4 linked regions of the Homo sapiens genome follow. The protein of the gene in region 4 purifies or fractionates together with the protein of the main gene of each other region. This does not show direct contact. Each region holds a gene or a part of one and is shown on either strand. Other genes may lie near its edges.

Region 1 (3,500 bases), on a different chromosome or scaffold from region 4:
AAGTAAATTGCATATAGCAGTAAACAGATTTCATCAAATTTAATGCAATACCATAAACCTTAAATAACACCATGGGTCCCATATGACGTGCCACTGGTGATGCTGCAGGTGCTCCCAAGAAGCAGAGAAAAAAGACATTACAAGAAAAAGTTGATTTGTTTGATATGTACTGTAGATAGAGGTCTGCAGTTGGAGGTTGCCCCCCAACCCCATTTCAGACAGAGGATTCATCTTGTAATCAAATTATGTAAACTTATAGTATTGATAAATGCAGTGCAGTAGTGTAAATGTATTTTCCCTTTCCTACGACTTTCTTAATATTTTCTTAGCTTTATTGTAAGAATATAGTACGTAATATATTAACATACAACATATCTGTCAGTTGTTTATGTTATTGGTACGGCTTTCGGTCAGTAGTAGGCTATTAGTAGTTAAGTTTTTGGTGAATCAAAGTTAGGTGTGGGTTTTCGACTGCACAGGGGGTTGGTGCCCCAACCCAAGTATTGTTCAAGGGTCAGCTGTACGTCCAGATTTTGCAGGGTTCAATTTTACTGCAAAATGTCTTTTAGTTAATACGTAGGAGATTTAGATAAAAGGTCATAAAGCAAGGAATGTCTTTTGATTAATATTTTCTCTTTCTAATGGGTTTCAATTTTGTGATTCCCACAGATTTTGCTTAGATGACATTCTCATTAAGGTAAAAATGGATATAGCTCATTTGTATTGAATAGCAAAAATGTTAGTTTTATAACCCAGTCTTGTTACGAATGAAGCACCTCAGCACATAGAAAACACTAGAGTTGAAAAGCTGAAAGTCTTTTCAGAAACTTCTTACTTTTAGAAATAACGGGGTGAGATTTTTTAATATTGAGATTTAGAACTGATTTTTACAGGTGAGGATGTGGATAGACACAAAGCGGTAAGCAACTTGCTCAGGGTTACACAATCCAGTTGTGGTAGAATCTGACCTAAAATCCAAAATCGTTACCTAAAATTTTACTGTGCATTAATGAGGAGTTATACTAGTAACACAAATTTAATGTTAGGTATTTAATAAAGATTTAAAATGAATCAAGACAGGCCAGGCTTTGTTTCTGACAAGTTATGTTTTTTCTATTTGGATTTCCTAGAGTAGTTCAACTAGGTGCAGAGGAATGGGCCTGTGACCATGGCCTTTAGATCAGACCTGGTGTGGGCTCACCCTGATGACAGGTGACTAAATCAGAGTTGAGGTCACTGCTGACACCAGGTTTCTAGAGAGAGTTAGAGGTAGAGATACCACCATTGGGGAAAAATGGCTACTAAGTTTACTTTCTCCTCTTATCAGCAAGAGGATGTCACCTCCTGATGCTGACTTAGTTCAGAACCAAGGAGAGTCTGATTTTTGTAAAATACTCCTTCAAAGCAGGTTTGGCAGAGTTTCTTAAAAGGGCCAGGCAGTAAATATTTTAAGCTCTGAAGGCCAAGTGGTCTCTTGTTACAACTCATCAACTCTGCCCTTGAATGGAAGGAGCCTTAGGCTTTGTGTAATCAAATAGTGTGGCTTTGTACCAATAAGACTGTACAAAAACCAGGTAGCCAATGGGCCCCTGCCTTAAAGCAATTCTGATAGCGTAAGCATGTGCAGGATAGTGAAGTTAGCCCCAGTTATAAGGGTATAATAAGGATTGGACTATATTCTCAACTTTAGTAAGATCCCACCTATTTTAAGAGTCACTGGTGGATGTATGTTATGGCAGCTTTGCACACCATTAAGTAACCAGGGGTTTAAGGATCTCATCCTGCTCTGTGTAGTTACTTCTGTATCAAAAATTGACAGCTCTTGTAACCAATCTATAACTTATCTCAACTCACCCTTGCAACCTTGATATTACTTGGTGATAAGTAGTCTCCATGGAAAACCAAAAGTGGCACCCGTGGGAATATAACTGAACATTTATTGCTTTTTACATATGCTGAAATACGGAGATATTGAATAATGACCAAGATGACACTTGTGTTTTAGAATAATTCTTCTGATTAGAGGTGGGGCAGGAAGGGCAGGGGAGGAGTTAGGAAGTAGAATTGAAAAGTATCCTGGGTTTATTGATTGTGGGACTAGGAGAAGAGGCATTTAGGATGACTCCTTAATTTCTTTTTCTTTTTTTTTTTTTTTTTTGAGTCTTGCTCTGTCACCCAGGCTGGAGTGCAGTGGCACAATCTCAACTCACTGCAACCTCTGCCTCCCAGGTTCAAGCGATTCTCCTGCCTCAGCCTCCCAAGTAGCTGGGATTACAGGCGCATGCCACCATGCCTGGCTAATTTTTTGTATTTTTAGTAGAGACAGGGTTTCACTGTGTTAGCCAGGATGTTCTTGATCTCGAACTCCTGACCTGAAGTGATCTGCCCACCTCAGCCTCTCAAAGTGCTGGGATTACAGGCGTGAGCCACCATGCCCGGCTGATGACTCCTTTAATTTCTAACTTGGGTGCATTTGTTAATCTTAGCCATGAAGGAAGGAGGGCAGGTTTTTGTGGGGCATGTGCTAAGTTCACTTTGGATATGAGTTTTGAGTATGGTGAGAGGGAAGTTGTGGGGCATCCAGAGCCCGGGAGTAAACACTAGGAAGAAAGCTCTGTGAGGCTGTTCAACTGTTGAAGCTCTGCTGTTTGCCTAACTTGATGTGGCCATTTTAGTTCCTTTAATGTCATACTCTGCTGTTAGGAATGTAAATTTATGGAGTCTTTTTGCACATCATTTTATATCAAGAGCCTTAAAAATACTAACTCCTGGCCAGGTGTAGGGGCTCACGCCTATAATCCCAATATTTTTGGAGACCAAGGTTGGCAGATCACTTCAGGTCAGGAGTTCAAGATCAGCCTGACCAACATGGTGAAACCCCATCTCTACTAAAAATATAAAAATTAGCCGGGCATGGTGGTGTGCACCTGTAGTCCCAGCTACTTGGGAGACTGAACCAGAAGAAGCGCTTGAAGCTGGGAGGCAGAGCTGGCAGTGAGCTGAGATCATGCCACTGTACTCCAGCCTAGGTGACAGAGTGAGACTCCATCTCCAAAAAAAAAAAAAAAAAAAAAAAAAAAGTATTCCTTCTCACCTGGTAATTCTGGTTTTGAGAGTTTATGCTAATTTTTTTCCTAAATTATAGACAGATTTTGAACACAAAATGTTCATCACAAAAACAAGTGAGTGTCTAAATGCCCAGTAGTTGGGAAATAGCTAAGTCACTGATGGTTACCTAAGATGGAATGATGAACATCCACTTTGTACCCCACAAATATAGACAATTATAATTTGTCAGTATTCAGCTTAAAAAAAGTAAGATGCTAGATGACTTTTTTTTTTCTTCTCTTTTTTGGAGACAGGGTTTTTGCTCTGTTACGCAGCCTGTAGTGCAGTGACACAATCATAGCTCGCTGCCCCCTTGACTTTCTGGGCTAAAGCAATTCTCCTACCTCAGCCTCCCAAGTAGGTGAGACTACAGGCATGCACCACCACGCCTG
Region 2 (2,870 bases), on a different chromosome or scaffold from region 4:
AGCCTCTGGGGCCTTCTGTGGGGGGTGGACTCTGCCACGGTGACAGTCCCACACACATTCTCACCACCCATGCCCGCCGCGAGGCTACAGTCCAGGCTGACCGTGCCCGTCACCTGGTTTCACACCCTGGTGGGCTGGGATGTCACCGAGCAGCCAGGCAGGCTTTGGCAGTGGATGCCTCTGGGCCCAGTAGCATGCTCCCGACGTAGCCCTGTGGGGCCCAGGGCTGGACAGATGAAACTCTGGGAGTTTTCAGAGGCTTCCAGGAGGCTGCCAGCTTAGGCTCTGAATGCCTGGGCTTGGGGGCCCAGGCCCCGCCCTCAGCAACACGCAAGTCCAACTTTCCCATCCCATCTGGTAGCAGAAGGTGGCCTCAGGTTGTCATGGGCTGTGGGTCTCTGAGGGAGGGGACCGTGGGCTGTGCATCATGACGATCTCTGGTACGCCTATGCCCACACTGGGTCCTGACAACAGGACGTAGCGCACCCCTGGACAGGGGTCTGGAGAGGGGGAAGGCCCCTTGCTCCCCTGTGGCTCAGAGCCTGGAGCCCCCCAGGACCCCCTGAGGCTGGCCCTGGCCCCGCGGGCCGGCTCCGGGTGGCAACCCCCAGGCAGCGCATGTCCCCCCAGGAGGCGTGGCTGCTGAACCGGGAACAGGAGCTGAGGGAAGAAATCCGGAAAGGCCGGGACAAGGAGATTGAGCTGGTCATTCACCGGCTGGAGGCCGACATGGCGCTGGCCAAGGAGGAGAGTGAGAAGGCTGCCGAGAGCCGGTAAGGACCCGCCATGGCTGGGTCACCAGCTGGGGAGGCCCACGAGCTGAGGCGCAAGGACCCGTGTGTGACTGGGCTGGAGTGACCCTGCCCTCCCCCCACCTCCAGCATCAAGCGCTTACGGGACAAGTACGAGGCCGAGCTCTCCGAGCTGGAGCAGTCGGAGCGGAAGCTTCAGGAGCGGTGCTCGGAGCTGAAGGGCCAGCTTGGGGAGGCCGAGGGCGAGAATCTGCGTCTGCAGGGCCTTGTGCGGCAGAAGGAGCGGGCGCTGGAGGATGCGCAGGCGGTGAGTGGGCGGGTGTCAGGTGGGCAGTGGGCACCCACAGGCCCCTCCTGCATGCACGCAGCCAGTCGCTGGCAGCCGGCTCACTGCCTTCTGTGCCCACCCAGGTGAACGAGCAGCTTTCTAGCGAGCGCAGCAACCTGGCCCAGGTGATCCGCCAGGAGTTCGAGGACCGGCTGGCAGCCTCTGAGGAGGAGACGCGGCAGGCCAAGGCCGAGCTGGCCACGCTGCAGGCCCGCCAGCAGCTGGAGCTGGAGGAGGTGCACCGGAGGTGGGCGGCGGGGGCTGCAGGGCTGGAGACGGAGGCGGGGCAGGGGAGCGGGCAGGACCTCTGCAGCTCCAAGCCCCAGGAGGCTGTGGCTGAGGAAGGCCAGGAGATGCAGAGACAGGGCCCTGTAGACAGAGGCTGGTGTGGGTTCCATGTTTGGGGCCCAGGAGACCTAGATCTGTTTTCCTCCCTGGTGCTTAGTCTAGGGTGTCGGCCATCCCTGTTGGGGCACCCGAGTGGGTCGGGTCTGGGCCTGGCGAGTTCTCCAGGGAGTCAGCTCCCGGGGCCCTGGGCTGGGTGGACAGGCGCTGAAAGAGCTGGGGCACTGTAAGGTTCCCAGCGAGCTCCCTCCACGGGGGTCCTGCATCCTTCCTGTGCCATCTGCTGCCACAGGCTGAGAGGTGGGTGTGGGCGAGGTGTCCCACCCCATCTGGGTACCAGGCCTCCCCAGGTGTGGCCAGGGTCATACTCCAGTGGCCTGTGTTGGGTCCTGACTCACAGCAGGTGGGTTGCCTGGACAGCTGTCTGGGCCAGCCACAGGAGTCGTGGTCAGCAGGGCTGGGACCAGGCTGACCAGGCGGCTGCCCCGTGCACCCTGTGCACTGCAGGCCACTCTGGGGACATGGGGCGGGGGCCACACTGAAGCCTACCATGTACTACCCACAGGGTGAAGACAGCCCTCGCGAGGAAGGAGGAGGCCGTGAGCAGCCTCCGGACACAACATGAGGTGAGTCCCTGTGGCCAGCCCTGCTGGACCTCGGGGCTGGGAGCAGGCCTGACCCTGTGGGTGTGCTGCAGGCTGCGGTGAAGCGGGCCGACCACCTGGAGGAGCTGCTGGAGCAGCACAGGAGGCCCACGCCAAGTACCAAGTGACCAGGGATGCCGGGAACACTGTCGAAGAACGGAAGGCAGAGGACAGAGGCTGGACGTGGGCCCAGAGGCCCACAGGGACGCCCACCTGCCCCCCACAGAGGCTGGTGGTTGAGATGCCCACGGCTAAGCACCTGTGGCTGCATTTTAACAGTAAAGGAGGCCGTTGTTTTCAGCGCCTTGAGTGACTGCCTTGTCTTCTCTCCTGGGCTAGAGGCTGCCCAAGACCCCCAGAGCAGCCAGGCGTGGGTTTGGCTCTCTTCCTCCCACTCCCCTCCGCAGCCTGAGCAGGCTGACCAGGAAATCACGAAGCTTGGCCATCAGCCCCCCAGCTAGCAGCCCTCAACACTCAGCCAGCAGCCCCCAGCACTCAGCCAGCAGCCCCCCTGCACTCAGCCCTCAGCTCCCCAGCATTCAACCCAACCCCCAAGTTCCTGTTCCCTGCCTTGCCCTGGACCCTGGAAGTCCCAAGCACAGGGAATTCCCTACCCCGTTCCTGGCCAGGCGCAGGAGGAACTCAGCAGAACTCACCCCCTGGGAGGAGCTCCGAGGGCCCCGCCGTGGCCCTGCAGGTGCTGGAAGCCCATGGCTGCCAGCGTGCTCCTATGGCTGGAGAGACTCCAGAGGGACAGGAAGCCCTACCCTCCCCGCTGTCAAGGTGTGACAGTCTGGAGCT
Region 3 (3,500 bases), on a different chromosome or scaffold from region 4:
GGAAATTAAAAATACAGGACCTTTGGGAATGAAGGTGGATATTTGGGAATCATAATTTGTTAACTGAAGCTAATAAGATGAGAGCATTCAGAGAGAAAAGAACGGAAAGATTGAATATCAGTTTCCCTTCTTTAAAAAAATTGTGGATATGTGATCTAGCTTCTTGAGCATCACAGTGACTGATTGGCTCGTGGTAATTGATCGCTATGCTGACAATCTTATCTCCACCTATGTCATTCAATTTTCTAAGAGGCAAAATCCTTAATCAGGAGGAGAGTTTAGCTCTAGCTAAATTTCCCTTGTCCAGCATGCTCCTGCTCCCCCAACTTGTGGAAACAGCTAAAGGATTGGACTAGGAGCAGAAGTTTGGAATGGTTAAAATGTAGCAACATGTGTTTCCTGAAACAAAATTCCACTATAATAAAAAAAGCATTTGAATGCTCCCTTGTAATTCTGTTGGAGCTTGTTGCCTTTTTTATGACACAACCATAATCAGTGATAGACAGTAGCATAAAGAAGCAAGAGCAAAGCAATTAAGTAATAATAGCACTACAAAAATGTGTGCTGTAGCTTACCAAACACGACATTTATGAATTATTAGATAGGAGATAAGGTGATGTTATTGGATTGTTTTAAATTTAGTTCTTTGAAATAGGATAGTGACTAATATTAGTTTGTGTGCTGATTTTATAACTTTATATGGGCCTTTATATCAGGAAACAACGTAACCTACATAATTGACTAATACCAGAGCAAAAAAAAGAAAAAAAATTCTAGTTTTTTTAAAGGACGATTTTGCAGAATTTTAATAATAATTTTGTTTCAGAATTTTCAAAATTCTTTCCAAACTGTCGATTTAAACTCAAGCCATTCTTACATACTCCTTGGAACCAGGAAAGGAATAGCTTGAATTTGTGTGGCCAGATGTTATTTTTTTTTTTTTTTTTTTTTTTTTTGAGGCAGAGTGTTGCTCTGTCACCCAGGCTAGAGTGCAGTGGCGTGATCTTGGCTTGCTGAAACCTCCGTCTCCAGGGTTCAAGCTATTCTTCTGCCTCAGCCTCCCGAGTAGCTGGAATTATAGGCACCCGCCACGATGCCTGGCTAATTTTTGTGTTTTTAGTAGAGACCGGGTTTCACCATATTGGCCAGGCTGATATTGAACTCCTGAACTCAAGTGATCCACCCGTCTCGGCCAGATGTATTCTTTCAGCTTTCCTTCTGCTCCCCAACCCTAATACATACCTGAGAAGAATATTCATCTGTTCGGATACTCAACATGCCATGTTTTCCTCCTGCCGAAGGACATTACCTAAACGTTTTATTTTTAAACATTTTGTCCTTGCTTTAAGACTTTGTGTCATTTGTGAAAATGCAATGCTCTTGGGAAGGGTTTCTGTGCTTTTCAGTATTTAGTGTAAAGGAGAGGTTACAATGAGGAGGATAAAAGTCCTAGAGAGAGAATTAGGGTGCAGAAGACCTTGTAGTTTAGGGTTGGCTTAATCTACTGTAAACATGTAAACCATGTTTTTAGTATTAGTGTATGACAGGACACAAGTGTTTGCCTAGTTATAGAGATTATTTTAGTTAAATCTAGTGTGCTTCTGCTATAAGCATTTTTAAAATTCAGTTACTCAAGGGTACAAATATAGCATTTAATGTGTATTTGTGAAACTTGCTTTAGTAAATTAAGGGAAATGCCTAATGACTCACACAGAATTATAGAGCTGAAAAGGGATTTTGAGAGATAATTTAATCCAGTCTTCATTTACAAATGAAACAGAGGCTCAGAGTTGAGAAATGTCTTTTGGGAGTGTTCCTAATTATTAATTGATAGTATTGTTGAGTTCTCTTAAATTTTCTTGTGAGTTCACATTTATGAGTTAATAGTTGAAATTAAGTAATTGGAATAACATAATGTATTTTATTTATAGTTAAAGTAGTTTTAGTTGAAGCCTACATCAGAATTCTTCAGTGTTTCGTTGTAATGCAGAGGCATACTGTATGGCACACATGAGAAACTAATTTTATGTTTCCCAATAATAATGTTTTAAACCAAGTTTAGAGATATTTTAAAAGTTGTGCTCTGTAGGTGCCAGGACAGATGACTTTCATAAAATGAATGCTCTCTTTAAAAAAATTTTTCTTTATGGTTTCAGAGATTTATATCTTTGGATTTTAATTATTAAAGATGTATTAAATGGGATGTGTACCAATCAGCCATTTCAAGGCCCTTTGCACGTTTTGTTTTGGATGTTATTACCTTTTCAGAAGCCCTGTGAGGTAGTTACTGTTATAAATAATCCCATTTCAAAGATAAGTAGTAGATTTAGAATTTTAGTCCTGGGGTAGTCTCATTCCAGAGCTCACTGCTCTACTGTTCCCTAATTGAGATACATCCAAGGAGAGTGGTCAAATTATTAGTCCAGTTTTTAAGAGTGTCCATTTTATACATACTTAAACCCAAAGCTACTAATTTTTAGTACAAATATGAAACATATAGGGAGGTCTTAGTGACCAGTTCACTGATTTGATTAACCTATAACACATTAAAGTGAAATATGGATTTGCTTACTGCTTATTTGAGTATTGCAAGGACTGATAATTGCTGATAAATTCAGGGCAGCTCAAGGAAATGATGCTAATTACATATATCTTCAAAAGGAAGGCATACATATTTCTGAAGCTGCAATTTGAAAATGAATAATCTCCACTGATGCATTACTTACTGTAATTATTTTACTCACTATGTATTATGTGCTCATTAATGACTGCACAAAACACATATGAAAGTAAAAAAATAGAAGAACTTAAAGTAATCAAGTATTTATTTCAGTCTCAGTTCTGTGCTGAACACTATGGTATATACAAGAAAACTAAGGCATGATTTTATACTTGAGGTTTACAGTTTAGTTTCAAAGATGAAACTAATATGTGTGAAATAATTATGGATGGCTTACTAGCATTTAATTGTTTGGGCAGATTAATAAGGGCTGTAGTATTTGGAGGATGATTTATGAAGAAGCTGAACTTGATCAGATCCTTGGAAAAGCATAAATAGGATGTGATAGATATATGGGAAGAAGGACTTCAAATCTAGGATGTGAGCTAAATTGAAAGCTCCATAGTGGCAGGGATTATTTCTTTTTTGTGCATTCTCTATTCAAGTGATAGCGTCCTGCATGATATTTAATAATGCCCAGCAAATATTTTACTGATAAAGGGAAGTCATGAAGGAGTTTCAAAGTATTTGGGGGATGGGTCAGTTAGGAAATTGCCCTGCCTGGAATTCAGATATTTCTGTTGGGAGCTGTGGGACAGCAAGTAGTTTATTTACTCATCTTGCCTTATTTCAGAAGGATTTTAAATGGGGCAGAATGGTTTGCGATTTATTTGATAGACAGTAGTGGATTGTGTAGATCATTAAGCAAAAGAGTGATAAAAGGTAAATTTATGCACTATTAGTCTGGGTCTAGTATTTTACTTTATACAGCTTTATTGAG
Region 4 (3,500 bases):
AAATGAAAAATTAATTTAATAGGTTAAATTCCATTTTTTCCCATTTTCTTTCAACGGATGAAAGATGATGACTGTAAGGTAAAGGTCAACTATGCAATAATATGGCCTATATATTACCACAAATCAGAGCAAATCGACTAAAGCATATTAATATGATACTTGTATTTTGCTCACTAAGAGTCCAAACCTTAGGTTTTTATCAGCAAAGAAATGTCCAACATATAGACTAACCCTTGTGCTTTTAGATAATTTTCTTATACATATGCTTTACAAAAGCTAACTTTTCCCTTCAAACCAGTGAGAGAAGAAAGTATCACTCTCATTTTACAGGAGTAAAAAACAGGTCAGAAATATTAAAGTTCGCTTTTTAGCTTTATTTTTTATTTATTTATTTTTTTGAGATGGGTCTTACTATGTTACCCATACTGGTTTGAATTTCTGGGCTTAAGCTATCCTCCTGCCTCAGCCTCCCGAGTACCTGGGACCATAGGAGCATGCCACTGTGCCCAGCTTAAGTTAGCTTTTTTTTGAGACGGACCCTTGCTCTGTCGCCCAGGATGGAGTACAGTGGTGCAGTCTCGGCTCACTGCAACCTCCGCCTCCCAGGTTCAAACAATTCTCCTGCCTCAGCCTCCTGAGTAGCTGAGCAGGCACGCGCCATCATACCCGGCTTTTTGTATCTTTTATTTTTGTATTTTTAATAGAGACAGGATTTCACCATCTTGGCCAGGCTGGTCTTGAACTCCTGACCTCGTGATCCACCCACCTCACCCTCCCAGACTGCTAGGATAACAAGCATGAGCCACTGCTCCCAGCCCAGCTTAAATTAGCTTTCTAAGGTTTTTAAATAAGTATCAAAGATCCTCTGGACTGTCTAACTGAACTCAAGACATACCACGCTCAAAATTTCTACCACAGATAGCATGTCCTACAAAAGGTCCGGGCACATCTGGTCTGACATGTGACTAGGTATATGGCCAGGTATTGGTATGAATCTTGAGCCTGAGGACGACCCCCGACCCAATTCAGCAAGAAGTGCTCTACTGATGTCAAGTAGAACAAAGTCAACAAAAATGAAGTTTGGGATTTAAATTTTAATTTTTTAACTTTTTTTTTTTTTTTTTTTGAGATAGAGTTTCACTCTTGTTGCCCAGGCTGGAGTGCAATGGAGCAATCTTGGCTCACTGCAACCTCTGCCTCCCGGGTTCAAGCGATTCTCCTGCCTCAGCCTCTTGAGTAGCTGGGATTACAGGCATGTGCCACCACACCCAGCTAATTTTGTATTTTTAGTAGAGATGGGGTTTTCCATGTTGGTCAGGCTGGTCTCAAACTCCCGACCTCAGGTGATCCATCCGTCTTGGCCTCCCAAAGTTCTGGGATTACAGGCGTGAGCCACCGTGCCCAGCCAATTTTTTTTTTCTATAAAAAACAAAAAGCCTCTCATTAAGACTAAGTGATTTTTCTCACCTTGTTTCAGAAGGATTTTGTTTAACCAGAAATTTCTTATTTGGCATTCCCATTTCAGCAGCTCTAACACAATATAAAAATAAGGACATAATGTATTTAGAGAAGGGAAGAAAACATGCTTACAAATGTAATACAGGATGACAGAAACAAATCATCATTTAGAAGCTGGTGTACTACTGGAAGACCTGTACTAAGCATATTAAAGACTGCATTCAAGAAAGAAGAATTTTTTAAAAAAGTTATTAAGATATTTTTCCCATTAAGTCTTTATTCCCAAGAAACCTTTAGGACATCAGAAAAGGAATATATTTAGGCACTGAATATAAAGATTAACTGTTTTTAAGATTAACCAGCTATCAGTTATATGAGTTGAATGTTGTCAAATTTAGTAAATAAATTCATCTAAGATGAAATGAGATTTTAGCACCTGATTTTAATAAATTTCTTTATATAAAGGGGATTTCTATCAGCTCAACTGCAGAAAAATTAACTCTTTATTTCTAAATTTAAATATGCAAATAGACCAACAGATGACTAAAATTAATTGGTTTGATAACTAACATGACATGATACAAAAAACTTACTTCATGTATTTCTTCCTATCAAGAGACTTCTGTGTTGCAGCTGAAAGAGCCACTCGTGGACTTTTCATTTTATCCTTTAATATACAAAAGTAACGTCAAACTCTACTGGAACCAATTAATACCACTATATTATAATGTATTATAATCCCACATTGCCTGGAAAAGCTTCTCTCTACTAACATTTTTAATTTAGTTAAATCATCTTGTTTTGTATTTTTGAAGCAGTCTAATTCTAAGAATTAAATAATTAGAATTATGTAAATTTTGCTTGCTTTTCCTTTGCCAATCACACTAAGATAACTGATTCAAATCACATACTCTGATATACTTCAAATTAACTTGGAGCCTGTTTTCTAACTCAGATTTCAAAAAAAGCAAAACCCACATTATAATTGAATTCAAGGAAATTCAATCAGGAGCAGCTGATAGATTGTATAAGCCATCTGAGCAAAACATTCAAAGCTTCAACTCTAAAATCCAATAAGAAAACAATATGTAATTCTTAAATGATGTAATTCTTTTAAATCTGTCTACAGATTTAAATGCTGCTAGTAATTCCAGGAATTACTTGTGCTTAAGAATTATCAGAAGAAGGGTGCTGAAGTCAACCAAAACTGACATTTAGTATCAATTACCCTAAACCCAGAAGAACTCTATTCATTAGAAATCATATAACATACCATTTGCCTGAGCATTTTCTCTTTGCGAACTTCTCGATCATGATGTAGAATAGACATTCTTTCAGCTGCATCCATTACAAAGAATATGTCATGAATACCGTACAAGGCAGCTCGCAACTAGGCACAAGAGAAGAAAATATTGTATACATTTAAAAGATGAGGTTAGAGTTCAGGAATACTATATACCATGTACACTTATTTATAGAAAAAGATTAAAATAGTTTTCATTGAAACCTATTTTCAGTGATTAAATAAAAAAGGAGAAATATAATATGTCCATGTCTTAAAAGCCTTCAGGATCCATGTATTTACCTGAGCTAACACTCTTTCCTGAAGTGAAGCATCTTGAGCTGAAACAATGCCTCTCTTTAATGGTGCTTCTGACTGAAAACTTCTTATGAATTCCATAGTATCCTGAAAAAAGAAATGCTCCTTCAAAAACATTTTTCTAGAAAGATTTGTGATCACTGGAGTTTGCTTTTTTCTTTTTCTCAGTCAATCCAAAATTACAGTCTTTCGTCAGTATCTGTGGGGGACTGGTTCCATGAATCCCTCAGATACCAAAATCCAAGGATGCTGGAGTCCCTTATATAAAATAGTTATCTGCATATAACCTAAGCACATCTCCCATATACTTTAAATCATCTCTAGATTAGTTAAAATACCTAATAAATGTACATGCTATGTAAATAGTTGTTATATTGTTTAGGAAATAATGACAAGGAAAAAAAATTTGTACATGTTCAGTACAGACACAACCATCATTTGT

What was found.
Region 1: the proteins of CCP110 (region 4) and CARNMT1 purify together in Homo sapiens (co-immunoprecipitation; one large-scale study listed by IntAct). This does not show direct contact.
Region 2: the proteins of CCP110 (region 4) and CEP131 purify together in Homo sapiens (co-immunoprecipitation; one large-scale study listed by IntAct). This does not show direct contact.
Region 3: the proteins of CCP110 (region 4) and ACTR3 purify together in Homo sapiens (affinity purification with mass spectrometry, with the first as the bait; one large-scale study listed by BioGRID). This does not show direct contact.

What each region holds. Positions count from the first base shown.
Region 1 is NC_000009.12:75,021,794-75,025,293, reverse strand, and holds part of CARNMT1 (carnosine N-methyltransferase), read left to right. Parts: intron 1-3,500.
Region 2 is NC_000017.11:81,189,096-81,191,965, reverse strand, and holds the end of CEP131 (centrosomal protein of 131 kDa), read left to right. Parts: intron 1-615; coding exon of another isoform or gene 616-630; coding exon 631-773; intron 774-881; coding exon 882-1,059; intron 1,060-1,163; coding exon 1,164-1,327; intron 1,328-1,990; coding exon 1,991-2,051; coding exon of another isoform or gene 2,052-2,122; coding exon 2,123-2,197; 3' UTR 2,198-2,370; downstream 2,371-2,870. UniProt on the Homo sapiens protein: Component of centriolar satellites contributing to the building of a complex and dynamic network required to regulate cilia/flagellum formation.
Region 3 is NC_000002.12:113,896,589-113,900,088, forward strand, and holds part of ACTR3 (actin-related protein 3), read left to right. Parts: intron 1-3,500. UniProt on the Homo sapiens protein: ATP-binding component of the Arp2/3 complex, a multiprotein complex that mediates actin polymerization upon stimulation by nucleation-promoting factor (NPF).
Region 4 is NC_000016.10:19,544,442-19,547,941, reverse strand, and holds part of CCP110 (centriolar coiled-coil protein of 110 kDa), read right to left. Parts: intron 3,146-3,500; coding exon 3,044-3,145; intron 2,849-3,043; coding exon 2,732-2,848; intron 2,126-2,731; coding exon 2,052-2,125; intron 1,531-2,051; coding exon 1,468-1,530; intron 1-1,467.